5 linked regions of the Homo sapiens genome follow. The protein of the gene in region 5 purifies or fractionates together with the protein of the main gene of each other region. This does not show direct contact. Each region holds a gene or a part of one and is shown on either strand. Other genes may lie near its edges.

Region 1 (5,511 bases), on a different chromosome or scaffold from region 5:
GGGGTGTGTGCTGCACTCCTGTGTGCTCTCAGGGCAAGTAAAGCAAAACCCACCCGTGTAAACACACACAGCAAAGTGATTTAGGAAGTTTCCAAATAAAGGGCTGCCGTATGGAGAGGCAATGTGCAGGCTGGTGCGTGGCTCTAGGGGCCACCTTGCTGCAGCTCTCCACTGATATGGTACAGTCCACTAGCACGGAAGCTATGGTGTGGGCATCTAAGAGTGCCCCGTAAGCAGGTGTGGCCAGGCTGGGGCCATGGGAGAGGCGAGCAGACTAAGGAGTGCTGAGATCAGACCAGCCCCATCTCAAGTGCAAGATTGCCCAGCCTCCAGAGATCAGGTCTCAGAGGAGAACTCTCTCAAAAGTGAACCCCCAGCACAGCACAGCCGCTCTACACAAACGTGGCTAGACTTCTTTTATTAAGCAAGTCTCCTTTTTTTAAAAAGGGAACTCTCGGACCTGATCTCTGCTGGGCAATCTTGCATATAAGATGTGGCTGGTATGACCTCAGTATTCCTAAAGTGCTGGGATAAAGTGTCTCACAAGGGCAAGTGGACCCTAGAGAGACAGCCATCCCTGACCTCTGGGCTCCACATCACCTGACTTGCTGCTCCACCACTTTGCTTGTTTCCTGGGTGCTCCATCCCAGAGACATGTGAGTTAGCAATCACTTAGTGTAATCAGCCCAGGATGGAGGGTCTGTGCTGTGGGCCCAAGCCAGGGTTCCCTGTCTGGTGATGAGTAGTGGAGGGTGTGTGGTACCCGTGGGAGATGGACTGGCTTGTTCTTTGGGTCAACTGCAGCTTATTGGAGGTGTTGATAGGGCACTTAGGGTCTTTGCTCCCTTGCATCTTCTGAGGGCAGCAAGGGCAGTTCCACTGCAGAGGCAGTGGCAGAAAGGATTTCATTTGCTCCTGGAAGCTCTGTCCCAGGAACTGCAGAGTTGCTACTGGCTTGATAGCTCCAGTGGTGGGCTGGCTAGAGACCCAGGCCAGGAGGATCTGCCCATCAAGTAGAGAGCCTGGCCACTTTTCTGTAGGGCTGCTGTGGTATGCTGGGGGTCCCCTCCAGTCCCTAATTGCCTTGTATTTTCCAGGGAAGATGATAGTCTGCCCCTTCCTCTGGAAGCTCTGTACCACTGAGGTACGAACCTGTTGCCAATCTGAACACACCTATAAGATGTGGCTGGAGGCAAGTTGAGAAGTCTTACCTAGTCAGGACGAACAAGAACAGGGACTTGCTTCAAAAAGAAAAGTCTGGCCACGTTTTTATAGAGCAGCTGTGCTGTGCTGGGGGTTCACTTCAGCCCCTGGTCCGCCTCAGACACTCTGAAGCCCTAAGGCTGAAATGCCTGGGTCGCCCCAACAGCAAAGATGACAATCTGGTCCTCCCCCTGGGAGCTCTGACTCAGGGAGGCCTGAGACCTCTGTCGGCCAGAGAACAGCAGTCAAGGTAGCCAGAGACCCTGGTTGAAAGACTTCACCCACTGACTAGAAATGTGGTCAGGGACTGACGTAAACAAGAGTCTGGCCACGTTTTGGTAGCGTGGCTGTGCTGTGCTGAGGTACCTCTTCCACCCCTTGTCAGCTTGGGCTCTCCAAAGCCCGCAGGCCAGAATGGCTAGTCACCGAAAGAGCAAAGGTGGGGGCCTGCCCCTCTCCGGGAGCTCTGTCCCAGGAACATTTCACATTTCCATTGGCCAAGGAATGCTGGTGGGGGTAGCTGGAGGCCCCAGTTGGGAGGTCCTGTCCAGTGAGATGGAACAGGATCAGGGGCCTGCTTACAGAAGCAGTCTGGCCATGATTTGGTAAAGCAGCTATGCTGTGCTGTGGGATCTCTTCTGTCCCTCGTCGGTTTGTACTCTCCAAAGCCCGCAGGCTGGAATGACTAAGTTGCCTGAACGGGAAAGATGGCGGCCTGCCCCGTCTTTTCTCTCAGAGTTTTATCTTGTTTCATGGAGCTTAATTTTTAGCCTGTTGATTTTACTGTCTACGTTAGACTTGTTGAGAAAGAATCTGTTCTCTTTTAGGTGAGATAAATGAGAATTCATTGTCTTCTGTAAATAAACCTGTTCATGTCTTGTTCTCTGGAAAGAAGTCTCTTTCAGCTATCTGACTTTGGTCACAATCATGTAGAGCAGCAGCCAGTCTACAATGACGTAATTGAATTTCCATTTCCGGTGTTTCCTCGTTGTGTCTTACATTGTCCAGTTCAGAACTGAGCATTTTATTCTCAGTTGTCAACATGCTAAGCTGTCCACTGTACTGAAATACTGTGCTTCCTCAATTTTTTTTAAGGTGTGCACTTTTATCCAACTCTCCTCAAGTCAGAGTACAGGTAAGCCCTGGCTGCCTCCAGCCACTCTCAGGGAGACCAAAAGCCTTCATACACCCCAAGTTGGGGTACAAAAGAGGGGGGCCACGAAGGCTGATCATTCAAAATAAAACAAAATTAAAAAGTATTAAGGCGAAGATTCAAAAAATTTTGCATTATGTAATCTGCACAAAAGCAATGCTATCACCTCCCCTGTGTGAACTAGGGAGAGGACTGGGCCATTCTCCTTAGAGAGAAGTGGGGTGGCTTTTAGCAGGGCAAGGGGCTTCCTGAAACAATGCGTCTCACAATATTTGGAATGACTATTGAAAAGAAGAACAATGTACAATCAAAGTCCTTGGCCACATTGTAGAACTTTGGAGGAAGCTTCCTCCAACCGACTGCTGTCACCTTCACCATTCCGGTTTTTAAATCCTGAGTCAAGCCAATAAAAAACAAAACAAAAAATGAAACAAGAAAACAAATAAAGCCATGCCAATCTCATGTTGTTTTCTGAGAAGTTTGGTTTTGTCAAGAAAGGGTGTAACGCAACTAAGTCAGAGTCCACCTAGAAGCATTTGCGGTGGACAATGGAGGGGCCTGACTCATCATACTCCTGCTTGCTGATCCACATCTGCTGGAAGGTGGACAGCGAGGCCAGGATGGAGCCACCGACCCACACGGAGTACTTGCGCTTGGGAGGAGCAATGATCCTGATCTTCAACATGCTAGGCGCCAGGGCAGCGATCTCCTTCTGCATTCTGTGGGCCATGCCAGGGTACATGGTGGTGCCGCCAGACAGCACTGTGTTGGTGTACAGGTCTTTGCGGATGTCCACATCAGACTTCATGATGGAGTTGAAGGTAGTTTCATGGATGCCACAGGATTCCATGCCCAGGAAGCAAGGCTGGAAGAGCGCCTCGGGGCAGCGGAACCACTCGTTGCCGATGGTGATGACCTGGCCATCGGGCAGCTCGTAGCTCTTCTCTAGGGAGGAGCTGGAGGCCGCCATGGCCATCTCCTGCTCGAAGTCCAGGGCAACATAGCACAGCTTCTCTTTGATGTCACGCACGATTTCCCGCTCGGCCATGGTGGTGAACCTATAGCCACGCTCGGTGAGGATCTTCATGAGGTAGTCAGTCAGTTCCCGCCCAGCCAGGTCTAGGCGCAGGGTGGCATGGGGGAGGGCATTCCCATCATAGATGGGCACAGTGTGGGTGACCCCGTCACCAGAGTCCATCACGATGCCAGTAGTACGGCCAGAGGTGTACAGGGACAGCATGGCCTGGATGGCCACGTACATGGCTGGGGTGTTGAAGGTCTCAAACATGATCTGGGTCATCTTCTCGCGGTTGGCCTTGGGGTTCAGGGGGGCCTCGGTCAGCAGGATGGGGTGCTCCTCAGGGGCCACACGCAGCTCGTTGTAGAAGGTGTGGTGCCAGATCTTCTCCATGTCATCCCAGTTGGTGATGATGCCGTGTTCCATGGGGTACTTCAGGGTCAGGATGCCTCTCTTGCTCTGGGCCTCCTTGCCCACATAGGACTCTTTCTGATGCATGCCCCCCATCATGCCCTGCTGCCTGGGGCGCCCCACGATGGAAGGGAAGACAGCCCGGGGGGCATCGTCGCCCGCAAAGCCGGCCTTGCACATGCCAGAGCCGTTGTCAATGACGAGCACGGCGGTATCATCATCCATGGTGAGCTCATTCAATTGTAGAGCCTTTAAAAGATTATCATTCTTTTTTTTCACACTTTCAATATCCTCCAAATATTTCTTTTTTCTTAGCTGGCTCTGATGTTTCATTGTGTCTAGCTCCAGTCTTAGCATGGCAATTTCTTCCCGCAACGTACTATTTTCATGCAAGAAGTCTTTTTCTTTCTTACAACTAAGAGAAAGCTAAGTAAACAAAGAGAACTTTTAGTTAGCACTCAATAGATTGACATATCATTATTTCTTCTGAAATTCAAAAATAACATGTATTTGTATAATGAAAGAATCCCCATAGTGGATATTTAACTGGAAAAAAATTGGACAAAACTTCAAACCTAATAAGAGTGTAAATTCCTCCAGTGATTTATTTTTCATCGCCTTTAAATAAATATTTAAACTTTTAGGAATCTGCTCCTAAATTCCTAAAAGTTTAAATATTTATTTAAAGACGATGAAAAATAAATCACTAGAGGATTTTTAAGAATCCCAGAATTAAAAAAGCCTTTTTCTGAGTTACAAAAAACCCAGAGGCATAAAATATAAGATTAACAATTTGACTACATTTTTAAGATTAGGTTTACACTCTGATATCTAACCTATCAACCACACCATCCTAAGAGCCTTAGCTATGCATATATTTGGACAGAAGCAATTTCTCAAAGTTCTTAAAGTTCTTTTACTGAAGAACATTTTACCGATATTCTACATTTCTAATATTTCTATACTCAGTTATAAGAATTACATTTATTTATAACTGTCAAATCTAAGCACTGTACCCTTCTACACTGTACACATCTGTATCTAGGCATTCCACTTCTACATATAACACTGAACTCATTTAAGATCGCGATTCTTAAAAGGAGAGGTCAAAAAATATACACAGATGCAGGATTTTCCCCAGGTCTGCTGATGCTACTTCTAGTGATCCTCCACAAAACCACACTTACTTCTGTGGTGTAAATATATAAATACAAAAGAAACCTTTTGTTTCAAAATATGAATGGTAAATAAGATACAACTTATAGAGATTTTCTTAGAAATCATGAGATTATTTGCCATTGCGGTAACTTTTATTTCCTCTTTATAATGTTTGAAACAGTAGTAATGGTGAAATAGGGGAAATATACTGAACTATTTCTCCAGAAACAAAATACTTATCAATAAATTATTACTAAATGTGTATCATGGCATGTCATTGTTTTCAAACCTCTTTACACTGAAATGAGAAACTACTTGGAGCAAACTGTTCCTCTCTGCAAAAGTAAGGATAATGGTATCCACAATGTGGCCTCTGACCCAGCTATACATTTCCTACTTTCTTATCAGTAAAAATAATCAATTGACTTCTCTATTAACATTTTTTAAAAAACTAATGTCCAAAAATGAGAAAATCTGTTTTCAGTAGCAAAACTTATTTCTGATGTGGAAAGATCGTCAATTCTTATGAAAAACATCAAATACTTCTCCTTTGGATTGAGGCCATTGT
Region 2 (6,324 bases), on a different chromosome or scaffold from region 5:
GAAACAGTAGCTGCACAACACTTCATCCTTCACGTCCTGAGTTCAGAGTAACCACACAAGAATTGAAAGCATTCCAGAATCCAACACAAAAACCATTCATTCATTGCTAGATTCAGAATCAGAGGATGAGTAAAGGTATGTATGTATACCTTTCCAAGGGGTGTCAGCTGCACAGTAATAAAAACACAGCCAAAATGAAACAGGCTCAGGGGCTACTTTTCAGAATCAAGACTTGAAGACAGACATTCTAACCTGTTTTCTGATAGATTCAGAAGTCTTCATCAAGTTTAAAATATCTTTAAAGTTGATGACTATCGGCATTAAAGATCCTCTTATAAACATTTAAGTACAAGGTACAGTTCTAGGTATTATGCAAGATACAAAGGTTATCAAGGGCTTGATCTTGACCCTTAAGTTGTTACTGAAGGAGAAATGCAAATTGTAGCAGAAAAATTCCCAGAAACCCCTTAAGGATGAATAAAAAATACCCCCTTAAACCTTAAGAGGATAAAAAAGCTGGGCCCTCCTCTCCTGCTGCTTTTGGAGTCCACCCTACCGTGTCATTTCACCGCCCCATGCAACTGCCACAGCCTAATAAAGGCTTATCTGTCTGCAGAGTTACAATTTTTTTTAACTTGATGAAGAATTTCTAGTTTGTTTTTTTTTATTTTATTTTTTTTTACAGTCCCATTCTTAGACTGGACTTAATATTGGTCCTCTTTTTCAGTTTCCTTAGACCAATAACCAAATCTTTTATAAACTCTATTTTCATGTGTTATCACCTGTATTTTGTTTTTATATGTATCATTAATTGTTAAAAATTAAGATTCTGAATCCCTTTGGATATTTATTAGGCTTCAAAGACCTTGATGAAGAAGTCTGAGTGACTGCTAGTTCTCTTACGTTGGCGGTAAGGCTGGGGTGCAACGCACACTGGTTTAGCATGAGCAATGATCACTAAGCACGAGAGCCACGGCCACCCCTACTTTACCTCGTTCACAGACAGAACTGGAAGGTTGGTCCTGGATGGCTGTCTGGTCCTGGATGCTTTTAGTGGTCTCTTCACCTGTGGGAAGTCTTGTTTTGGAACAAATGTTTCCGTTGATACAGATGAGAAATGCCTCTTTAATATTTTTATAAACCATTTAGAACCCAACAGATTTGGTTTGTGGGTCACTCTCCTGTGAGTACCAAAGGATTTCATGGTTGGAAGGTGTGCCTTTTCATCTTGGCAACGAGCAGCATTTAATGGAGACAGCATGCTGGTATCTGACTTTTTTTGGTTCATTTCCAGGATCTGAGACTTATTCAAACCACTAGCTGTTTTATCAGGAAGGAACAAATCCAAGCTTTGACGTATTGTCAGTGTGCTGCATGTTGTATTTTCAAATTCCTTAAGTGGTTTTAACATTAGATGACCGATTCTTCGGCACTGATGTGCTTTTGATAATATATGATGAGATCTGGCCACGGCTCTGAGGAGTGTGGCTGGCATTACCACATCCCAAGCTAAAAGAAAAGGAATTCAAAGTTCAAGTTTTTAAATTAATGTTTAAAACATATATAATATTTCCCTAGGTAGCAGGCATATTTCTGTTAGAAAAATTTGTAAAACAGATACATTCTAAGTTAATTCTAGTAAAAGAACAAGGTTAAAAATATAAGTACAGTGTTTCTGCCACTTTGCCTTTAGCAACATTTGGCCTTCTTCCTGGAAGATTACAAGATTATAAAGCTACTGACATAACAAGAACCTTAAAAAAAATAGTGATGGGACCACTTCATTTACTTCATTAGCATATCAAGTATATAAAAATCTGTGCTGGCCAGGCACTGTAGCTCACACTTGTAATCCCAGCACACTGGGAGGCTGAGGCAGGTGGATCGCTTGAGTCCAAGAGTTCCAGACCAGCTGAGGCAACATGGTGAAACCTCATCTCTACAAAAATGACAAAAATTTAAAAATTAGCTGGGTGTGATGGCAGCTCATGCCTGTAGTCCCAGCTACTCACAGGCTGAGGTGGGAGGATCACTTGAGCCCAGAAGACTGAGGCTGCAGTGAGTCATGATTGTACCACTGCATTCCAGCCCTTTTTCTGTCTCAGGAAAAAAAAAAAAAAAATCAGGAAAGGTTCCCAGAAAGATCTAAGCTGATTCTAGAAGGCGAAGGTGCTTTTCAGCTTGGGGCTGGGCATGGGAGTGCGAGGCATGTCAGATACACACATGAACATTCCAGACAAGGTAAACAGAATTTCCCCCTTATTTACAGTATGAAATGTGTTATTTTAAAGTTAGCCTATAGTAGGCCACACATGGTGGCTCACGCCTGTAATCCCAGCACTCTGGGAGGCTAAAGGCTGGGGGGATCACTTGAGGCCAGGAGTTCAAAACCAGCCTGGCCAACATGGCAAAACCCCATCTCTACTAAAAATACAAAAAAAAATTAGCCAAGCATAGTGGCTTTAATCCCAGCTACTCAGGTGGCTGAGATATAGAATCGTTCAAACCAGGGAGGGAGAGGTTGCAGTGAGCCAGGATTGCCCCACTGCACTCCAGCCTGGGCGACAGAATGAGACTCTGTCTCAAAAAAAAAAAAAAGTTAGACCGTAGTAATCAATAATTCTTTTTTTAAAAATAATATGTTAGGTGCTAGAGATAGATGAATCAATGATCTCAGAATTCAAAGTCTAGCAGAGGAAAATGAACGAGATGCACAAATTGCTCTAGTCCAGAGAAAGGAGCATGTGAAGAGTGTGGCATTGTCACAGAGGTGACATTTGAACTGAGTCTTGAAAGGGCAGAAGGATCAGCAAGTTAAACACCCCAGGCATGGAGTCCTATTCATCTCCCCATCTCGGGGAGGTAGGAGTGAGCTGCAGGAGGTAAGGACCAAAAGAGCCGATGGCCAGATCACCAAAGGATATATAAAGTCATCCTAAAAAGTTTCTACAGGTGGGGAGAAAGCTGAGCTTTTAACTCAGAGTCACACGGTCAAATGCATGTTCATGAAACAAATTTTTGGTGATGATATGTAGGAGGAAACAAGACAGACTCTGACATCACTCTGAGCGCTTTCTACATGCTAAGTGCTCGGCTTCACCTCATAATGATCCCATTTCACTGATTAGGAAACTGAGGTTTAAAGAGGCTAAGTGCTCACCGTTAAGAAGCTGCAGAGATGTAACTAAAATAAAACCCAGGCTTTCCCAATTCCAAAGTCAACACTCTTACCCACTACCTTGTATTTACTACCTCTCTTCAGGATAAGGACAAAGATGATTCACAGTGATATTTAGGAGGTAGAACCTGCTGCTTCCAAAATCCCTTCAAAAGCTCGCATTCTGTGCTTCATTCTAGTCCAATTGGCTACTGTAGTTCACCTTTAATTAGTACTATGCCATGCCAGTTGAACCACTTAATTTTGAAGAAACTATAAAATATTTTAGAAGTTTGTCTACAGTCCTGGATTCTTTTTATTCTCTTTGAGTAAATTCTTTTTTTTTTTTTTTTTTTTGAGATGGGAGTCTCGCTCTGTCACTCAGGCTGGAGTGCAGTGGTGCCACCTCAGCTCACTGCAACCTCCGCCTCCCCGGTTCAAGCGATTCTCCTGCCTCAGCCTCCCGAGTAGCTGGGATTACAGGTGTCTGCCACCATGCCTAGTTAATTTTTTTGTATTTTTAGTAGAGACGGGGTTTCATTATGTTGGCCAGGCTGGTCTTGAAATCCTGACCTCAGGTGATCCACCTGCCTTGGCCTCCTAAAGTGTTGGGATTACAGGCGTGAGCCACCGGACCCAGCCCATTTTTATCACTGCACCTTCTAGAAAGCCTAAGATTACATTTGTGCCTTACACTGTTTTTCTATCAGACAGGGCCCTATTGTCATTATCAATACATCGGACCTCCTCATCTCAGTTTCATCCATTTTACTCTCTAAGCACCACCTCCTATCTTTGCATCTCACTCCTTCTATTACCCAATTCCAATAATTCTTCAACCCCAACAGGACCCACAAGTCAATGATCCAACCACCTTTTCACTGTCTCTCACTCCCCATGACTTCACTTCCTCCATATCCAGTTTACACTCCATGGTCTACCATTCTAACCTCTCCCTTATACCCCTAGAATCCCTTGCATCCCTTTCTTCCCAGTCTTTCCCATTCATGAGCAGTAATAAGTATCTTTATAACTGCTAAGCCAAAAACGTGGGGTCCAGCTTGACTCTTTATTCTCCATATCCAACTTCTCAGTAAATCCCAAGGGCCTTCTAGGGACCACTGCTCATCATCAGTAATAATACTACCTGATCCAAACTGCTATCCTTCCCATGGATTATTATAATAGCTTCTTAACCAGTTTTCCTGATTCTGTTTTGGGCCCCCTACAGTTTCTTCTCAACACAGCAACCAAAGTGATCCTTTGAAGTTGAATCTCAACGCGAAATCTAGCTGTGGCTTCACGGTTCACTTAATAAAAGCCAAAGCCCTCCAACCAGGCATGGCGGCTCACGCCTGTAATCTCAGCACTTTGGGAGGGATCACTTGGGGTCAGGAGTTCCAGACCAGCCTGGCCAACACGGCGAAACCCCGTGTCTACTAAAAATACAAAAATCAGCCGGGCATGGTGGCATGGGCCTATAATCCCAGTTACTTGGGAGGCTGAGGCACGAGAATGGCTTGAATCTGGGAGGCGGAGATTGCGCCACTGCACTCCAGAATGAGCAACAAAGCGAGACTCTGTCTCAAAAAAAAAAAAAAAAAAAAAAAAAAAGCCTGGCGCGGTGGCTCACGCCTGTAACCCCAGCATTTTGGGAGGCCGAGGCGGGTGATTCACAAGGTCAGATGTTCGAGGCCAGCCTGGCCAACATGGTGAAACCTCGTCTCTACTAAAAATACAAAAAAATTAGCTGAGCGTGGCGGCGGGTGCCTGTAATCCCAGTTACTCGGGAGGCCAAGGCAGGAGAATCGCCTGAACCCGGGAGGTGGAGGTTGCAGTGAGCCGAGATCGCGCCACTGCACTAAAGTCTGGGCGACAGAGTGAGATTCTGTAACGAAAAAAAAAAAAAAAAGCTAAACCCCTCAGAATGGCCTGCATGGCACTACATTATCTGTCCTTTATCACCACTTTGACAGCACTCTCCTTTGCTTATTTTGCTCCTCATTCTGGTCTCTGGATCTGTGCACTTGCTGTTCCTTACGCTCTTCTCCCAGGGATCTGAAAGGCTCACACCCTCACCTCCTTCAGATGTTTGCTAAAATGTCTTCTACCCAGTGAAGCCTTCCCCAACCACTACATTAAAAACACACAACCAGCCCTCTCCCTCTCCCTCCTCTCCCTCTCCCCACGGTCCCCCTCTCCCCACGGTCTCCCTCTGATGCCGAGCCGAAGCTGGACTGTACTGCTGCCATCTCGGCTCACTGCAACCTCCCTGCCTGATTCTCCTGCCTCAGCCTGCCGAGTGCCTGCGATTACAGGCGCATGCCGCCACGCCTGACTGGTTTTCGTACTTTTTTGGTGGAGACGGGGTTTCGCTGTGTTGGCCGGGCTGGTCTGCAGCTCCTAACCGCGAGTGATCTGCCAGCCTCGGCCTCCCGAGGTGCCGGGTTTGCAGACGGAGTCTGGTTCACTCAGTGCTCAATGGTGCACAGGCTGGAGTGCAGTGGCGTGATCGAGGCTCGCTACAACCTCCACCTCCCAGCCGCCTGCCTTGGCCTCCCAAAGTGCCGAGATTGCAGCCTCTGCCTGGCCCCCCATCGTCTGGGACGTGAGGAGCCCCTCTGCCTGGCTGCCCAGTCTGGAAAGTGAGGAGCGTCTCTGCCCGGCCGCCATCCCATCTAGGAAGTGAGGAGCACCTCTTCCCGGCCGCCATCCCATCTAGGAAGTGAGGGGAGTCTCTGCCCGGCCGCCCATCGTCTGAGATGTGGGGAGCACCTCTGCCCCGCCGCCCCGTCTGGGATGTGAGGAGCGCCTCTGCCCGGCCGCCCCATCTGAGAAGTGAGGAGACCCTCCGCCCGGCAGCCACCCCATCCGGGAGGGAGGTGGGGGTCAGCCCCCGCCAGGCCAGCCACCCCATCCGGGAGGGAGGTGGGGGTCAGCCCCCCGCCCGGCCAGCCACCCCGTCTGGGAGGGAGGTGGGGGGGCCAGCCCCCGTCCGGGAGGAAGGTGGGGTGTCAGCCCCCCGCCCGGCCAGCCGCCCCGTCCGGGAGGGAGGTGGGGGGTCAGCCCCCCGCCCGGCCAGCCGCCCCGTCCGGGAGGGAGGTGGGGGGGTCAGCCCCCCGCCCGGCCAGCCGCCCCGTCCGGGAGGTGAGGGGCGCCTCTGCCCG
Region 3 (6,324 bases), on a different chromosome or scaffold from region 5:
TGGGCACACTAAGCAAGAGCAACTACAAACAACACTTAGGCCTTTTCATTCAGATTTCAAAGGCCTTTCTCTTATATATCACTAGTGCTATAAAATAATGCAACAAAGAGCTTCTTTATACGCTTTCTTCTACAATCTTTTAAGAAGTGGACCCCCCTTCAAAAACAGCTTTAAACTGATAATCATTTTAAGTGATCCTGTGCTAAATTTAGCCCACAGCCAATCCATTTGTTGTTGTTATTGTCTTTTTTTTTTTTTTGAGATGGAGTCTTGCTCTGTCACCCAGGCTGGAGTGCAGTGGCACAATCTTGGCTCACTGCAACCTCCACCTCCTGGGTTAAAGCAATTCTCTTCCCTCAGCCTCCCCAGTAGCTGGGACTACAGGCACACGCTGCTACGCCCAGCTAATTTCTTTTGTATTTTAGTAGAGATGGGGTTTCACTGCGTTGCCCAGGCTGGTCTCAAACTCCTGACCTCAAGTGATCTGCCCGCCTTGGCCTCCCAAAGTGCTGGGATTACACCTGTGAGCCACTGCACCTGGCCTGTAGTTTTTTGTTAAGAGACACGTCTGGCTGTGTTGCCCAGGCTGGCCTCAAACTCCTGGACTCATGTGATCCTCCTGGCTCAGCCTCCTGAGTAACTGGAACTATAGGCATGAGCCACCATACCTAGCCGTTATTTTATTTTCCTTTTTTGGATACAGGGTCTCACTCTGTCACCCAGGCTGAAGTGCGGTGATGCAATCTTGGCTCACTGCAGCCTTGACCTCCTGGGCTCAGGTGATCCTCCCACCTTAGCCTCCTGGGTAGCTGGGACTATAGGTGCTATGCCTGGCTAAGTTTTTGTATTTTCTGTAGCAATGAGGTCTCATCATGTTGCCTCAACTGGTCTCAAACTCCTAGGCTCAAGCAATTTGCCCACCTAGACCTCTCGAAGTGCTAGAATTATAAGCGTGAGCCACTGCACCCAGCCCATTATTTTATTTTCCAATAAAGCTTTGCCTAGATAATAAATAATTTTTTGTTGCAGATTATACACCTCATAGTAATAACAAACCCTAAATTGGTATCTAGGCAAAATCATCCACTAACAAGACTCTAGAAGTATAAGACCAGCTCTGTCAATACCACTGTGACAAATAAGTGGTTATGAAAGGTGAGTTTGGGGGAAAAAAAGAGTCTAAAATCAAGGCCATCATTTTACCAGGATAATAATCTACCTGGATCGTATTTGTAAGTTGAATGTGGGCACTCAAATGGCTTCTAGGTCTCATCTAGGGATTCTTTCTTCTTCATTACTCCTGCTCATGATTTCTAAACATCACATTTTACTATTATGCCAAAGTGAAAACACAGAACACTGTAAAGTGTACATTAACTGGCAGACTAGACTAACTCTAGCTAAAGTGAGCTACAAGAGTTAACTTGGGATTCCAGAGACAATATTTAAGAAAACAAATAAATAAAAATAAAACAAAATAAAATGAGAGAGACAGAGAAAAAGAAATACCTCTTTTTGTAGCATGCACCAACAGTCTATCCAAGACGTATATATTGGGGAGTAAGGAGGGCATCCACCAGCAAGACTAAAATAGAAAAAAACATGGAGCTATTCATGTTAATATTAACCATTCTCTTGAGACGTTGATAAACCTTGTCAAAATATTCTGCTGCACAGAAGATTCCCTGAGAGATCATTTTAGTTCAATGAAACAAATCATATTGAAGCAGGGGAACGATCAAGCATCCAAAAGAGAATTCCTCCCCTATATTTAGGTTTCAAATAAATAAATAAACATAAACTTCAACCTTAATTTCTAAAACATTTAGACTTTTCCTTTGTGGACAAATGAAACTCCAGAACACAGCATTTACATGATTAAAGAGCAGGGAAAGGTGGCCGGGCACGGTGGCTCACACCTGTAATTCCAGCACTTTGGGAGGCCAAGGCAGGTGGATCATTTGAGGTCAGGAGTTCAAGACCAGCCTGGCCAACATGGTGAAACCCCATCTCTACTGAAAATACAAAAACATGAGCTGGCATGGTGGCGCATGCCTGTAATCCCGGCTACTTGGGAGGCTAAGGCATGTGAATTGCTTCAACCCAGGAGGCGGAAGTTGCAGTGAGCCAAGATTGCACTACTGCACTCCAGCCTGGGTGACAGAGTAAGAACCAGTCTTTTTTTAAAAAAAAAAAAAAAAAAAAAGAGCAGGGAAAGGAGATTTAAAAACTAACTGGTGTTCACAAAGATACTAAACATGAAAACGGATATAAACAGTAGATATATATGTTCCTACTTAGGTATAATCACTTCATCTTGAAAAAACTGTAAATAATAATAATACATTTAATTCATCCTTCAAGTTTACACTGTGCTAAAAAATGGCAGTTGCTCTACGTATCAGAAAACATCACAGCTTGCCAGGAGTAACATGAAACAAACAAAACCAGAAAACAAACAATGTAAAATGTTCAAAACTCCACATAGCTATCTGATCTTATTTGAAAACAGTAACATGTTTAATGATATGTCAGGTACCATATGGGAAAAGAATTTTGAATTAAACAAAAAAGGCAAGGCTGGGTGCAGTGGCTCACGCCTGTAATCCCAGCACTTTAGGAGGTCGAGGAGGGTGGACCACTTGAGGTCAGGAGTTCGAGACCAGCCTGGCCAACATGGTGAAACACTGTCTCTACTAGAAATACAGAAATTAGCCGGGGGTGGTGGCAAGTGCCTATAATCCCAGCTACTCTGGAGGCTGAGGCAGGAGAAGTACTTGAACCCAGGAGGTGGAGGATGCAGTGAACCAAGATCGCGCCACCACAATCCAGCCTGAGCAACAGAGCAAGACTCTGTCTCAACAATAACAACAACAAAAAAATACAAAAAATTAGCCAGGCATGCTGGTGGGCACCTGTAATCCCAGCTACTCAGGAGGCTGAGGCAGGAGAATTGCTTGAACCTGGGAGGTGGAGGTTGCAGTGAGTCGAGATTGCACCACTGCACTATAGCCTGGGCAACAGAGTGAGACTCCATCTCAAAAAAAAAAAAAAAAAGGCAAAATTTTGCCCAACTCAGTAGAGTCACTTGGCATCTAGAATTTGGAAATCAATGGAGTCTACCACTATACCAAAACCTGCCCTTCTAACCAATACAGAGAAAAGGTCATCAAACTTTCCATAGACTAAATATCCTAATTCTGGTTCTTTAAAACTCACTTTCTCCATAAAGCCCCTAGGAAAAACAGGTATGGATTGTCATTTAATCCCTGATATACCTTTTGTCACTTTCATAGAAAAGATAAAGATTTAAAATAACAATATGTTGGCTGGGCATGGTGGCTCACCCCTGTAATCCCAGCACTTTAAGAGGCTGAGGAAGGAGAATCACTTGAGCCTAGAAATTTAAGAACAGCCTGGGCAACAAAGTGAGACCCTGTGTCTTCACAAAAAATAATTAGCCAGGCATGGTGGCATGCACATGTACTCCCAACTACTTGGGAAGCTGAGATGGGAGGATCCCTTGAGCTCAGGAGTTCAAGGCTGCAGTGAGCTAGGACTTCACCACCACATTGCAGCCCTATCTCTAAAAAAATTAAAAATAAATAAAAATAGGCCAGGTGCAGTGGCTCACGCCTTTAATTCCAGCGCTTTGGAAGTCCGAGGTAGGCAGATCACCGGAGGTCAGGAGTTCAGGACCAGTCTGGCCAACATAGCAAGACCCCATCTCTACTAAAAATGCAAAAATTAGCCCAGCATGGTGGCACATGCCTGTAATCACAACTTCTTGGGAAGCTGAGGCATGAGAACTGCTTGAATCCAGGAGGTGTCTGTTGCAATGGAGCGAGACTGCACCACTGCACTCCAGCCTGGGTGACAGAGTGAGATTCTGTCTCAAAAAACAAAAACAAAAACAAAAACAAAAACTATAAATAATAATAGTAATTGGCCTGGCATGGTGGTTCATGCCTGTAATCCCAGCACTTTGGGAGACTGAGGCGGGTGGATCACTTGAGGTCAGGAGTTCGAGACCAGCCTGGCCAACATGGTGAAACCCTGTCTCTACCAAAAATACAAAAATATTAGCTGGGCATGGTGGCGAATGCCTGTAATCCCAGCTACTCAGGAGGCTGAGGCGGGACAATCACTTGAATCCAGGAGGTGGAGGTCGCAGTGAGCCGAGATCATGCTACTGCACTCCAGCCTGGGCAACATAGCAAGACTCCATCTCAAAAAAAAAAAAAATAATAATAATAATTAATAAATAAATACAAATTGAGGCTGCTGCTGCATAGGGCATACAAAGAAAAAAATTAGGAATCTTCTAATGGTATCAATTATACTTTTCCTCCCCCCCTTTTTAAAAAAATACCAATCAGAGATTGATACTGATCATTCATCTTTCCTAAATTTCTACAAGGCTGCTCCGCCTGTCAGCATACAGTCAACCACCTACTAGAATAAGAAATACAAAGTGCTTACCCACAGTTGTTGACAGCCATAAGATTGGAGACAAGCACAAAGGGATAGGTCAACATACTCGCAAAAAACTGTAAAATGGAAACAAGGCAGCTGTTATTAGATCATTCCTAGTCTTTATTCTCCTTTCCTTTACCTTAAAGGCCTAGTGCCACTGCGGTGAGACACTCTAACACTTGTCTCGCTTCATCGGTACCCTGGAAAGACAACAGTTACAGTTTTGAGCCTGGAGATGCTTCTTCCTCTTAGCACACCACTGCATCCAACATTTTAACAAAAGGCCAGAAGAATTCTCTGATCCTGAGTAGCTGGGACTATAGGCGCACGCCACCATACCCAACTACTTTTTTTTTTTTTGAGATGGAGTTTCCCTCTTGTTGCCCACGCTGGAGTGTAATGGTGTGATATTGGCTCACTGCAACCTCCGCCTCCTGGGTTCAAGCGATTCTCCTGCAACCTCCGCCTCCTGGGGTTCAAGCGATTCTCCTGCCTCAGCCTCCCAAGTAGCTGGGATTACGGGCATGCACCACCATGCCCAGCTAATTTTGTAGTTTTAGTAGAGATGAGATTTCTCCAAATTGGCCAAGGTGGTGTCGAACTCCCGACCTCAGCCTCCCAAAGTGCTGGGATTACAGGAGTGAGCCACCGCGCCTGCCCCAGCTTTTTTTTTTTTTTTTCACTTTTGTAGAAATGGGGTCTTGCTCAGTTGCCCAGGCTGGTCTTGAACTCTTGGCCTCAAGTGATCCTCCTTCCTTGGCCTCCCGAAGTGCTGGGTTTACAGGTGTGAGCCACCATGTCTGGCCTGAACAATATTATTTCGGAGGAAAGGCACGCCCCTTATGAAAGCTAAGCAGTACCAAACCATGCAGGATGTGAGGCAGGGGTTCTGCCTTACTCTCTTTATTTTCACATGTGAGTCTGTGGTTCCTTCGAAAACTGAGTTATTCTCTCTTTTTTTTTGAGATGGAGTCTCACTCTGTCGCCCAGGCCGAAGTGCAGTGGCGTGATCTCAGCTCACTGCAGCCTCCATCTCCCAGGTTCCAGTGATTCTCCTGCCTCAGCCTCCCGAGTAGCTGGGATTACAGGCATGCACCACCACGCTCGGCTAATGTTAGTATTTTTAGTAGAGACGGGGATTCATCATGTTGGCCAGGCTGGTCTCGAACTCCTGACCTCAGGTGATCCGCCCACCTCACCTTCCCAAAGTGCTAGGATTACAGGCATGAGCCATGGCGCCTGGCCGAAAACTGAGTTATTCTTACCTTTGACAAATATAACAAATTTCAGGGAGATGTCCCAGTGAGACATCTGGTTATCTTAAAGCAGTGATGACACAAGCCAGATTTAAAAGGAAAACAAAACAAAACACAACTATTCCTAGAAGGTTAAAAGGATTTTAAAAAACTCACTCCTGTGACAGCTTGAGAATAACTCTTCATTTCATTCATGGTAGAAACCTAAAATAGGAAAAGAGCCTTAAATTAATTACCTACAACACTACAACACATCAATATATTCTTTTTTCCTTTTCTTTTCTTTTCTTTTTTTCTTTCAGACAGTGCCTCACTCTGTCACCCAGGCTGAAGTGCAGTGACCTCCTGAAGCACACATCACCACGCCCAGCTAATTTCAAAATATTTTTTAAGAAATGGTGTCTTTTTTTTTTTGAGATAAGGGTCTCCCTATGTTTGCCCAGGCTGGTCTCAAACTCCTGGGCTCAAGAGATCCTCCCACCTTGACCTCTCAAAGTGCTGAGATTATAGGCATAAGCCACTATGCCCAGCTAAGAGACGGTGTCTTGCTATGTTGCCTAGGCTGGTTTCAAACTCCTGGCTTCAGGCAAAC
Region 4 (6,324 bases), on a different chromosome or scaffold from region 5:
GGTTCCTGGCTCCAAGGGCAACACTCTTAGCCAGCCTCACACAATGTCACTGATCTGGCATTTTGCATAGTTACATATCCCACAAATCTGTCTCCCATAAAATCTACGAATCCATCTCCCAGCATTACACATTGATCTTGTCTAGCTCAGTCACCTTAGACAAGTTCCTTAATGTCCCTGACACTATTTCCTTGTCTGAAAAATGGGGATGATAGTAAGCACCTGCCTCTTGGTTTTGTTGTACAGATGACATATGAGAACCCAGGCCTGGTGTGGTACCTCGCACACAGTAAAGGCTGAGTACAGGCAGCTGTGTCTCCTGCTGTCATTCCTGAGGGGCTCCCTGGCCCTCTGCCCCCCGGGGGGATTCTCATTAGGTCACTTCTTAAAGCCTCCTGAGACAAGGCATTCAGTGCCCATCCTCCCTGCTCACTATGCTTGGCACCCACTTCCCCCAGTGTGCTCACCACCATGTGGGGAAACAGTCAATTCCATGGTGCTGTGTCTGTCTTCCCAGGTGTGGCCCCTCTGCCGCCCCAACCAGCTCACCTCGGCTGCCCTCCGGCGGGTGCCCTCCCCACTCTCGGCCTCCTCATGCTCTTTGGCGCCCTGGGTGAGGTTGGTGTAGCTGACGAGCTTTCCCAGAAGAGACGATACCTTTGGGCGGATGTCCAGCTCTTCCTGCAAACAGAGCCACAGGGCAAGATGGCATTGGGCCAGGTGGGTGCCAGCTGTGTGGAGCCAGCTGCCTGGTCCCTGGCCCTGTTCCAAGCCCTGAGACAGGCCTGGGCCTGATCCCAGTTCCTACCTGGGGAAGTCCAAGCCATCCAACTGGACAGGTGTGCACACCACACCCCAGCACGTGGCACTCAAAGGCCCAGCCCCGCGGCTGCTTCTCTCTACCCCGCCTTGGCTACAATCACTGCCAGCCCATTTGTGAAAACCACCTGCCTCAGGGGAGAGAGGGCAGGGAAGAACACGGCTGGCAGGGGGGCAATGGCATACTTCATCCTGCCTGCTCTGCCCAGCCACCTCCTGGCTATGGCTGCACCTCTAGGACTCACGCCTACCCTCCCCACAAAAAAGCCACTCTAGTCACCTCAGGGAACCAAAGAGGGCAAAAGAGTGATGTCTGGGACAAGTGAAGTCTCCCTTGTCTGCCCAAACCCTGATCTCCCTGGATGGTCTTCCCCTGACCCCAGTCCTGCAAGTACCCACATCAATCGCGGAGATGGGATCCTGATCCTCCAGCCCATCCTCAGGCGGGGCTGGGCCAAGGCCTTCACCGCAGAACCTTGCTGCTTTCCCAGGTCAGGAGGCCTCCCAGAGCTCAGGTCCCCCAGCCCCACCGGGGTCTAGGCGATGATCCCTGCTCCTGCAGCCTTCTCGAGGCTGTGCTTCTACCTGCCTCCTGCCCACATTTAGCTTTTCCCTCTCTGTCAGCTCCTTTCTGACCTACACACAGGGAGAAGTTGCTTTGGTGTGAGAAAGGAAGACGAGGGCCCTTGGGGGCATGTGGAGATTAAGGAGCCTCGGCCAGATGTGGTGGCTCACAGCAGTAATTCCAGCACTTTGAGAGGCTGAGCAGGAGGATCACTAGAAGTCAGGAGTTCAAGACCAGCCTGGCCAACACGGTGAAACCCCGTCTCTAAAAACACAAAAATTAGCCAGGCATGTGGTGGGCACCTGTAATCCCAGCTACTCGGGAGGCTGAGGCAGGAGAATCGCTGAGCTTGGAAGGCAGAGGTTGCAATGAGCTGAGATCGCGTCACTGCACTCCAGCCTGGGGCGACAGAGTGAGACTCCATCTCAAAATGAAGAAAGAGAAAAAAAAGGCAGATTAAGGAGTCTCCATTACTCAGCCATGCAGTGGCTGAATGCATGGGTCAGAGTTTAGGAGCTTAAACTACGTCTTAAATCCAGATCTCACTGCTCAGCTTGAGTCTGAAGAAGATAAAACTCAAGTACAGAGGCAGATATTTGGGAATCTTTCCAGAGACGTATCCCCTAAAGCTGCAAATGGACCAGGACTCAGGGAACTAGAGAGGGACAGAGCTGGAAGGGTCAACCAAGAAAGACAAGGAAGAATCCATGGGAGAGCGAAGAACCATGGACTTGGAGAAGAACCAGGAGTGGAAGGAAGAGGAGAAATCCTGAGTTGGGAAATCCTAAGCGGGCGTTTCCTTGCTGAGGGGTTGTAAGGAAGTCAGAGGTGAACCACCCTGGAGGTAGCAATGGGGGTGGGATTGTGAGTGGCCTCTGGAAAGGCAGTTTCAGTTGAAAGGGCCAAGGGAACTGCAGCCCGGCTGCCATGAGAACCAGGAACACAAGAGGAGATGAGAGGAAGAGCAAGACAGAGGAGGCCCACGTGTCCAGCCTGCCTGCTTAGCTAAAGCCTCTGTGTGCCAAACCTGTGGCCCAAAATGGCTCCTCAGCTACCTCAAACAGTGCCAGGTTCCTGTCATAGTAGTCAATTCCTCTGGAAGCCTCCAAGGGGGAAAGAAAAGGGCTGCTCTCTCTGTGGTTGCCATGTCCTGTGAAGAGAGAGGGACAATCAGGGCCTGCTTCCTGAGCCCCCCAGCCTGGGCCCCTTCCCAGAAAGCCAGTCCCCAAATCATTTCTGTGGAGCACTTTGGAGCTGCAGTGTCACCAGGTTGCAACTCAGTTTTCACATGGCACCGTGCCAATGCTCTTGAAGGCCCAGGGATAGCCAGAGAGAGGCCAGTGACCAAAACCTGGGACATCATTCCCTCCAGTGAAGGGAATCCAGGTGAGGGCGCAGGCGCCCTAGCACAAGCACGTATGGACACTGAGGGACGGGGCCTGCAGAGGGGCGGGGCCAGCGTTTGACCCGCCCCCAGATCGCCTCCACGCCCCAGTCCCTTTCCCGGTCTTTCCGGAGTACCCAATGTGCAGGATGCCAAGGGTTCGGTGTCCTCAGGGACCGCCCAGGCAGTGCCCTCCAGATAGACGAAGCCGCACACAGCACCTTCGGCTGCCATGGCCCAAAGGTGGCCGGCTGGCTACCCCACCATGCACTGCGCGGGGGGCGTCCTGCAGGGCAGCCCGGGGCATGCCGGGAGGTGGGGCAAGCCCCAGGCCGTGGAGAGCGGAAGTGGATTCCAGGAGCCTTCTAGGGTTGCCTAAGAAAGTCGGACGGGTGGGTGTCGGACTGAGCAGGGAGAAAAATGGGAGCTGGGACTGCTGGCAGGAGCAACACAATGGCCCCCTTGCCCGCAGATCCCGCCGCTTGCCCCAGGCAAACCTCCGCCTACAGCCCTAGGCTGATGAGCCAGTGCCCCAGCTCTGAGAAATCTCGCCAAAAGGAGTGAAATGCTCCTTTTCAATAAGCCTGCCTCAACTCCCAAAGCTCGACTGTTTTTTCTGGCCTCCTATCATTCATTCTTCCCTGTTTTCCAACTCTTGTCCCTTATGAGTCTCGGTGGGTGCCATTCCCAGCTTCCCACCAAGCAGAACGCCAAGCACTCGTTTTCTAGGTGCTGAGTGTTCCCTCCACCCCAGCTACCCTCGCAGCCCCGGCCCTGGCTCAAGGCCTCACAGCAAATGGAAAGCACACATCTTGGTGTTGGATGGCAGCAGTATGTAGTTCTGACATGAGAAGGACTGGCATGGTGTCCAGTGATGGAGATGGCAACAGAACTGTCACCACCAGCCCAGGCTAGTGGTGTGATTGGGCCATGCACTGGCCATGCCCGCCAACCTTTTCTGTTTACATAGGCCACAATTCATTTTTCTTGACTGCAGCTGAGAATGCTGATTGAGGCATCCTCCTGTATCTGATACATCTCTTGCTATCAGCATGAGGCTTCAATTGCTTTCTCTGAGCCAACAACCACTCAGCAGGTGCTGTGCTGTGGATTCTTTATCCCCCAAGGAAACTAACAAATCAAGTGTGCCCATGACAGTTTCTGGGGCAAAGTCAGTTCTTCCTTCCCACAGCATGTGAAAGTGGCACACCTGCTACACCCAGCAACCTGGACTAGCTAAGTGAGCCAAGCAGCTCAGCCCCACATTCACATAGGTCAATGCCAATGGCACAGTGGACAAAGGCAGCCAGAGGTCAAGACAGTCCACCGTGTCATGTTAAAGCCAGGCGGGGTCATGTCGGACACTCTATGATATCTGCTGTACCCTCCATGCTTGTTCAGGATCAGAAGGAGTCCCAAGAAAAATCTGAAAACCCAGTAACACTCTGCCTCTTACATTAATGACATTAATGGCTCTTCAGTGAAAAGCCTTTGAAAATTACTTTTGGATTTTTGTGACAAAAAAAGTGTCTCCCTTTGATAAATCAGGTGCTTCATTTTGTCAGAAAATGCCAGTTATACAGCTCGTCTTACTTCTCTTTCTGCTTTGGCTGCCAGGAATCTCCAAGCTAAATTTACTCTTTAGATAAAGTCACCATCTGTCTCACCTGAGTGCTTGCCCCCTTCCTCTGCATGGTTTTCAATCTTCCTGAGAGTAACAATCACTTGGGGAGACACTTTTGTTGGCTATTTCTTCTGATTCTTTTGTGGAAGTAGGCTGGAAATCAATTATAATTTATTCTAAACTCATGTACTACAGCCTGCCCCATCACTGTTGCCTGGTCTTTCTGGGTAGACTGTATTGCTATCCAGAAAATATACAGCTGAGCACACAGCAGCTCCCCACAAATGCCTGTAAATGGTCCTCTAAGACCTAGCCTATCCCTTGTCCCTTCAGCTATCACTCTAGGATGGCTCGGGGCCCTTCCAAAAGTTGTCTCTAGTTCTCACAGCAACATTCCAGTAGAGAGCATTTACTACCTTTTAGGGACAAGGAGAGTGAAGCTCAAAGATGTTCAGAGGCAAGGTCACCCAGGGAGAAGGCCACATCTGGGTCCCAGGGTCCATCAGAGCCCTGTAGGGGCGGAGCTGCAGGTTCCGTTCCTACTACAGACTCCAGTCCATCTATGCAGCACAATCTTTAAAAATAGAGAAGAGTGCTGCAATTTGGCCAGGGTACGCATACCTAGGCCTCTGGGCATTCAGACTGCGGCAGACTGGCTTGGATTCCCAGACCTTCCCCCGTGTGACCCAGGGAGACATGCTTACTCCCTGTGCGGCCTTGGTTTCCTCTTCTATGAAGTGGAGATTGTAACACTTGTTTTTCCAACTGCCCAGATGCACTAGAAAAGGGACAGTTAGTGCCAGACGCCCAGTGGGCACTCCTCGGAGTTCCCCCAAAGCTCCCAAGGGCTTGTGGGAATGTAAGGGTCTAAGTAGTGCCTGGATGTCTGTACTGCCCTCGGCTTCAGACCTCCTGTTCTGGCCTCAGCCATTCCAAAAATTCCAGGGCAGGTCTGGACATGCCTGCCAGGCTGAAGCTGCTCAGACACCACCTGAGATCCCCAGTAAATCTGAATATGGCCTAGGCCTAGGGACTGCCTGTGAGCTACACAACTGTGTTCCCACCAGCAACTGTGACTGCACCAGTGGCAGGTGGGGATCCAGGTGACCCTCCTGATCCCTGTGTACACGGACATCTGCCTGAGGTGCCCCCTCCAGCACCTCCCTACCCCCTGCCCACAGGCCAAGGTGGGCTGGATGAGCAAGCCCATCTAGGCCTCCCAGAGCAGAGGTGTGGGCACTGAACTGGGGAAGGGGCAGGAGATAGATCTGAGGCTCACTGTGCTTTGTGCCCTCTGACCCTTTGCAGTCCCCACCAAGGATCAAAATCACTCACCGGGGCTCAGGGTGTCCCCCATCCTGTAGACAGCCAAGGTCTGGCTGGAAAGGAGTAAGAGGAGGAGAAAGAGGAAGGGAGGCAGTGGGAGGAGCTGGCCTAGCTTGCGGGGATCTAGCAGGACTCAGCCAATGTAGCTCCAGGTCCCTCCAGTCACCCTGTAGGGGCCAAGGCGTGGCCAAGGTGGGGCCAGCAGCTAGGCTCAGCTCTGCCTGCCCACTGGTCCAGGCTGATCCTGGGGATGCAGCCCAGTCTACCCTCTGGGGAGAGAGGTCCTCCCAGGGTTAGGGAAGCAGGAATGCTGGCTTTTGCTTTGACCACTTGAATCAAGCTAGGGGCAGACAAGGGCATGGAGGCTGGGGCACTCACACAGCTGTCAAGCCTGTAAAACCTCTGCAATGTCCAGCAGCCCATGCCACTGTCCTGTGCTACCTCTGCACATGGCAGTCAAGTGATACACACACATAGCCATCATTCACATTGGGCATGGATCATCTCAGTCGTGTCACCATCACAGATGGATCAGAGGTCCAGACAACGTCACCTGACACGTGTCAACCACACACTTCCTACATATCTCCATCATGATCGGTCACA
Region 5 (6,324 bases):
GGGAGGAGAGAAAGAGAAAGGCGTGGTCAGAAGTGTGTCCTCTGTCGGGTGTGAGCTCTGGCCTAGGCTGGGGGCTGAAGGATAAGGCCTGGCGCATGAAGGATGGAGAAGTGTGATTCATGAGTAAGGGTGGCACTGAGGGCAAAGAAGGGGCCATGGCCCCCACTCCTCTGCAGTCCAACCACAGGAAATTATCTCAGCATGGTGAGACAGGTGCTGAGATTTGGTTTTTCCAGCTTCCTTCAGGTCCACGTTGGTGCTGATGTAGAGATAGCAGCCAGAGGTCTATGTGGATCAAAGCTGCAGATGGACCTTGGGCCTGTAGCTGGAGGGGGATGTGGCAGAGTACAGCAGTCTGCTGCCCTCAGTAGCTGGGGAGACCTTATCAGGGTATCCACTGGCCAAGTCAAAAGGACAGAAAGGTTCATCTCCCTCATCCTTGACAGACATAAACTTCAGCAAGGTGAACAGCCACCCAGGACACCAGCCCACACACATGGAAGGACCGTCATGGACCACAGGGCATCCTCTCCCAGCGCCACCTAGTGAGAGGGGCAGGAAGAAGGGAGCCTCCAGGGAAGGATGAACATTTCTCCCTAAATAACAGACTAAGAGTACATTTCCTAAATGGCCAGTTGAGATGACTAGATCAAACTCAGTTTAGACTCATTGGACATTCGATGAATTTTCCTGCAGCAAGTGGTGATCTGGAAAAAGACCAGATCAGCAACAGAAAAAATAAAGACTTTATATCCTCTCTGCATGTCTGCTTTGTAGTGTGAGTTACATTGGTGATTATGCACATTGTTGAGGTTCTACATAAAAATAGCAAGTAATTGAGAAAGTTCAATATCTCTTGCCAGAGTCTTTAAGTCCCAGCAGATAAAGGAATGCTTTGGTAGACTTTAGCGCATGGAGCCATGAATCCTTCTACCATCCATGAAAGACAGAGAGAGATCCAATTCCTGCAGTAGAAAAGCCAATGAGACAGAGGAGGAAATTGGCAGATGATGGGTAAGTGAGGAAACCCCATCTAACTTTCTTTGGTGGGACTGGAGTCAGAGCTATGCCAATGTTATGTTTGCTTCAGTATTAGTGAGCAATACTCAAGTCTACCTTTGTTTCATGTTTGTGTTTGTTTTTAAAAGCAGTCCAGGAGTGGTAAGAGCCTCTTCTGCCATATGCTGGATCTGTGGCATGCTGGAGCTGGCTTGCACTCACTCATAAGAGCCCACTGCGATCATTCTCAGCAAACTAACACAGACACAGAAAACCAAACACCACATGTTCTCACTCATAAGTGGGAGTTGAACAATGAGAACACATGGACACAGGGAGGGGAACATCACACACCGGGGCCTGTCGGGGGGTGGGGGGCAAGGGGAGAGAGAGCATTAGGACAAATACCTAGTGCAAGCAGGGCTTAAAACCTAGATGACGGGTTGATAGGTGCAGCAAACCACCATGGCACATGTATACCTATGTAACAAACCTGCACGTTTTGCACATGCATCCTGGAACTTAAAGTAAAATAAAAATGAAAACTAAAAAAAGAGCCCTCTGTGCACCATGCACTCCTCAATTCATGCACACAGCGTCATGTCCGTGGCTTAAACTCAGCCATGCTGGAAGTATTTATACCGTGGAAGTCAAATGCTACACATCAAAGTGGTTTGTGCTTGTTTTGTTTTTTTGCCTGGAGGGCTGATAGCTAAACATTGACTGGAATAGAGGGTCAAGAGAAGACAGCAGCCCCCACGTGGAAGCGCCATATATCTTGGTCTTCCCTGCCCAACAGCTCCTGGGAGCCACCTTACTTTCTGAGGGGAGGAGGGAGGCAGCCAAGAATGAGACTTGCCAACTTCGGGGTTATCTAGTGGCTGAGCTCCCAGGCTCCGGCTTCTCTCCACCTCGCCACATAGTCCTTGTACCTGGCTATATTAACGCATCAATGAGTGCTCCAGCAGCAAGGAAGAGCTAGCCCAGCCCTGCCAGGGCCACCTGCGTGTCCTCCCTCCCTGGCTTCAAGAAAAGGAGAAGTTATCAATTACCAAGATTTCATGGGCAAGGCAGCCACAGGTTTCACCTCCAATTGTGACATAATTCAATGACTCTTTGACAAACTCATCAGCAGTCTTGGTTATCACATTTGTATTTAGATACTTTGTCATTGCAGTCGAGACAGCATATGGGGTCAGCACCTACAACGGGAAACAAAGACCATGGCACAGAAGCAATCCACCCCAGGAAGAAGACTCAGAAATTAACACTCAAGCCCCCATCCCACCATTTCCCGACCCTTCTCTTCCTAGGCAAAGTTTTAAGATCTTGAGTGGAAAAAGGCACAGTACCGGCACAGAGCTGGGAATCAGAAATTTGGTTTCTCAAGATGAGAACCTACCTAGCCAACATCAAGTGGCCCAAATGCCCTGCCCAACACACAGTGTGAATGGGAAGAACTCGGGTCTCTCTCTCAGAACCAAGTTGCAAGACAGCAAATAAAAATACAGGATGTCCAGTTAAATTTGAAGTTCAGACAAACAATGAAAACCACTTCAGCACAATCGTATCCCAAGTATTGCATGGGACATACTTATACTGAAAACTATTCATAGGCATCTGAAATTCAAATTTAACTGGAGGTCCTGTATTTAATCTGGCAACTCTATCTCAGAAGTTTGTTTCTAATACATATAACCAAAGTTGGAGCAACTGAAAGCACTCTGGATTCCCACTTTCACACTTCAGTTAGGAACCAAGAGTAGCACATACCTCATAACCTCTTCCTGTTGTGGTAAGAAAAACAATCACACATTGTGCCCTAAAAACCCAACACCATGTTTCCACCTGTGGGCTAACCACATTGTGGCCTGGCATGGGGATTCATAATGGGGTTTTATTACCTTATTCCCAGAACAAAGGGTTTGGCATCTTTAGAAAGAAAAAAGGCTGGCATGGTGACTCATGCCTGTAATCCCAGCATGTTGGGAGGCCAAGGCAGGACGATTGCTTGAGCCCAGGAGTGCGAGACCAGCCTGAGCAACATGGCAAAACCTCATCTCCATTAAAAATAGAAAAATTAGTCAGGCACGGTGGCACATGCCTGTAGTCCTAGCTACTTAGGAGGCTGAGGCAGGAGGATCCACTGAACCTGGAAGGCAGAGGTTACAGTGAGCCAAGATCGTGCCACTACACTCCAGCCTAGGCTACATCAGAGTGAAACCCTGTCAAAAAAAAAAAAAGAAAAGAACAGAAAAAGAAAGAAAGAAAGAAAGAAAGAAAGAAAGAAAGAAAGAAAGAGAAAGAAAAGAAAGAAAAGAAAAAGTAAAAAAAAAAATCCACAAAAGTTTTCTAGGTTTTATTTTTCTTCACATCACATTTGGAATTACATTATTTCATAATTGAACCCAATTATGAATCAATTAATCCAAATGAGCAGGTTCCTATGGAAATTAAAGCATGATTAATTTGTATAACACTTTTCTTCCAAGGATCTCAAAGTGTTACTCTTTGAGAAATATAAGGAGTGTGCTTTCTCCACCACAGTTTCCAGATAGGGAAGTAATGATAAGTATTTTCATTCTTAAGTGATTTTGGGTTGACAAAACACCTGTATGTACAAAATAGGGGCTCAATAAATATTGTTTAAACATATGTACTTATTTCTTCGTTAGATCTTTACTATAACCCAGAGATATAAGCAGGCATTATAAGCCCCTTTTTATGGATGGGAAAACTGAGGCTCACAGAGTTTAAACAAGCTGACCAGGATCACTCAGATGATAAGTGGTAGAGCTGTGATGAAATTCAAACCCAACTCCACAGTACATACTTCTTCATGCATTCAGCGAGTATTTATTCATTCAGCGAGTATTTATTGAGTGTGTGTTCGGAGAGGCCAATTGGTTTTTGAAAGATCACAGTCTTTTCACTTTCTCCTCCTTGCTAGAAGAGCACCTCCAAGTTCTCTGCATCAGGGAAGGGACAAGGGACTCCATTTCCCCACCCACATCTCCTCCTGACCCTCCTGCTCCATAGTACCCACTACCTCGGCAGCTGTGCCCCAAGGATCAAGACAAGATGCTGCTGAGGGTCACATGGCTAGGAAGCAGGTGGCTGCGATGATCATTCATGTTTAGAAATCACCAAGGATTCTTGGTTCCTTCTTCTTCCAGACACATGCATAATAGAATTGCACTTCCTGGCCCCCTGTGGCTGTGTAGGACCATGCAAGCAGAGTTGGCCAGTGATTTATGAACAGAGGTGACATGTGTCATCTCTGGGCCAGAGCATTTCATTGTCAAAGCAGGACCCACTAGAACTTCCCACTCCTTTTCCTCTGGCATGTCGGCTGCTCCGTCAGCCTGGGGCCCTGTGTCAGCACAGTGAGCCAATGTCTTCTGTGAACCCACAGTGGATGTGTCACGTGAATGCAAAATAGGACTTTGTTGTTTTAAGCCACTGAGATTTTAGGGGTTATTTTTTTACTGCAGCAAACTTAGCCCAGACAGAGTTGCAGCATTACAAAAGCGAAACTCCAGCTTCAGCTGGGAGTGGGAGCACGGAGACCCCAGCATGGAAGCAGGACCCTCTGATGGGTCAGACGGCTTCTGCATGGCAGAGAAAGGGACTGTGACCCGGTGGCAAGGCTGTTACAACCACTCACTATGGCTCAGAGATGATATTATTGGCCAAATTCCTACCATTAACTCATATCTGCCTACTTAATAAGCTTTACCCTGTAGCTGGTTAGTTTATAGGAACAGCTGCCTAAAATACTCTCACTGGATATTTTAATTGAAAATCAGTGTGCGCAGCAATAATTTCCAAGATATAATTTTGAGTGTGCCTTTCTCCATTTCTAATAGTATATCGTAAAACTTCTTCCCACACAACAATAACAAAACAAAACAAAAACTCTGTTTATTCTACGTTCCAGAAACTATCTAACTCTAACTCTGTTGCTGAACCAAGCACAAATAAATCACTGACACTTTAGGAATCACATTGCTCAGCCTGCAGCAGGCAGTGACAGCCCAGCTCTGCCTAGGTGAGGACAGGTCATCTCCACGATGACCTGTGGAAGGGAAGCAGAGTGCCTCCTCCTCACCTGCTCGAGAACCAGAGTGTGGGGACCTCTGTGGCCCATCACAGAAGGTCCCCTCCCCTGGTGACTAGCCCCTCCCCTCATTCAAACTCGGATCAAGTGCCCAGTTTTGTTTTGTTTGCTTCTTCTCCAGAATTCCTCCCACATAAGCCTGTGTTCTGTACCAGGGTCAGAGAGGAAAAGCCACAACCAACCCGAATGTCTGCTCTGATGAAGCATCAGGTAGCAAGAAGGTCCACAGCATTTCTGAGCAGCCACTCCCCTCTCCTATTTCCTCCTCCAGCACCCAGGGCACGGGGGAGGGCAACAGAAGCCACAGCAGCAGGTGGGACTGAGGCGCCCCAAAAGCCCACGTGGCATCCCCAGCTCATCTTCCTGTTGACCACACATGAGCAGCCAGACCCACAGGAGGCAGTGGCCCCAGCCACGGGAGGTCCAGAGTAACCCTTCTCAAGGACTCACAGCCGCCCACCTCACCTGGATGATGACAAGGACTCCACAGCTGCCCACCTCACCTGGATGATGACTTCTTTTGCTTTATATTCCTCTTGCAGGGCCTTGGAAAATGCGCACACAAACGCCTGGAGCAAGAAGGAGAGACACCTGAGGCCCCAGAGTGAGCTCCCTCGTCAGAGCCAACTTCCTCTGACTTCAAGGGGCACTGCAGACACACTACCTGCTAGACCTTAAAATAGAGTGGGGAGCTCTGGGTACGGAGGGTACGGAGTTTCAGCTGCACAGGGTGAATATGTTCTAGAGATCTACTATACAGCATGGTGACAAAAGCTAACAATCATAGACAACATACCTGAAAATTACTAAGCAAGTAGATCTCAGGGGTCCTCACCACAAAAAAAAAACCGGTAAGTATGTGAGGTCATGGATATGTTAATTCGCTTGACTTGATCGTTTCACAACATATACATATATTAAAATATCACCTTGCATACTATAAATAGACACAATTTTTATTTGTCAAGTACGCCTTAATAAAGCTGGAGAGTGGGGCAGAAAGAGGGTAAGGGAAAAAATGAACCAGCTTGCCTTGATGGGAGTTAGCACTTCATCCCCCGGTCTGGGAAGAGGACCTCCCACTCAGCAGGAAAATCTGTTTTGGGATAAATCCATCCCTAGGGCCCCTGCATAGATTAACCTCCCTTGTACAGCGCCCCCTCCTCCTCAGGCTGTTTTTATGACTAGGGCATGGGGACACCAGG

What was found.
Region 1: the proteins of HSD17B3 (region 5) and POTEI purify together in Homo sapiens (affinity purification with mass spectrometry; 2 studies listed by BioGRID and IntAct, with this or other methods). This does not show direct contact.
Region 2: the proteins of HSD17B3 (region 5) and RMND1 purify together in Homo sapiens (affinity purification with mass spectrometry; one large-scale study listed by BioGRID and IntAct). This does not show direct contact.
Region 3: the proteins of HSD17B3 (region 5) and MTCH2 purify together in Homo sapiens (affinity purification with mass spectrometry; one large-scale study listed by BioGRID and IntAct). This does not show direct contact.
Region 4: the proteins of HSD17B3 (region 5) and SLC12A4 purify together in Homo sapiens (affinity purification with mass spectrometry; one large-scale study listed by BioGRID and IntAct). This does not show direct contact.

What each region holds. Positions count from the first base shown.
Region 1 is NC_000002.12:130,459,934-130,465,444, forward strand, and holds part of POTEI (POTE ankyrin domain family member I), read right to left. Parts: intron 4,212-5,511; coding exon 2,883-4,211; 3' UTR 1-2,882.
Region 2 is NC_000006.12:151,444,317-151,450,640, forward strand, and holds part of RMND1 (required for meiotic nuclear division protein 1 homolog), read right to left. Parts: intron 1,510-6,324; 5' UTR 1,496-1,509; coding exon 992-1,495; intron 1-991. UniProt on the Homo sapiens protein: Required for mitochondrial translation, possibly by coordinating the assembly or maintenance of the mitochondrial ribosome.
Region 3 is NC_000011.10:47,621,192-47,627,515, forward strand, and holds part of MTCH2 (mitochondrial carrier homolog 2), read right to left. Parts: intron 5,937-6,324; coding exon 5,889-5,936; intron 4,551-5,888; coding exon 4,483-4,550; intron 1,586-4,482; coding exon 1,510-1,585; intron 1-1,509. UniProt on the Homo sapiens protein: Protein insertase that mediates insertion of transmembrane proteins into the mitochondrial outer membrane. Catalyzes insertion of proteins with alpha-helical transmembrane regions, such as signal-anchored, tail-anchored and multi-pass membrane proteins.
Region 4 is NC_000016.10:67,961,026-67,967,349, forward strand, and holds part of SLC12A4 (solute carrier family 12 member 4), read right to left. Parts: intron 5,770-6,324; exon of another isoform or gene 5,750-5,769; coding exon of another isoform or gene 5,728-5,749; intron 3,028-5,727; exon of another isoform or gene 3,003-3,027; coding exon of another isoform or gene 2,906-3,002; intron 2,535-2,905; coding exon 2,440-2,534; intron 682-2,439; coding exon 550-681; intron 1-549. UniProt on the Homo sapiens protein: Mediates electroneutral potassium-chloride cotransport when activated by cell swelling. May contribute to cell volume homeostasis in single cells. May be involved in the regulation of basolateral Cl(-) exit in NaCl absorbing epithelia.
Region 5 is NC_000009.12:96,238,707-96,245,030, forward strand, and holds part of HSD17B3 (17-beta-hydroxysteroid dehydrogenase type 3), read right to left. Parts: intron 5,689-6,324; coding exon 5,623-5,688; intron 2,202-5,622; coding exon 2,052-2,201; intron 1-2,051. UniProt on the Homo sapiens protein: Catalyzes the conversion of 17-oxosteroids to 17beta-hydroxysteroids. Favors the reduction of androstenedione to testosterone. Testosterone is the key androgen driving male development and function. Uses NADPH while the two other EDH17B enzymes use NADH.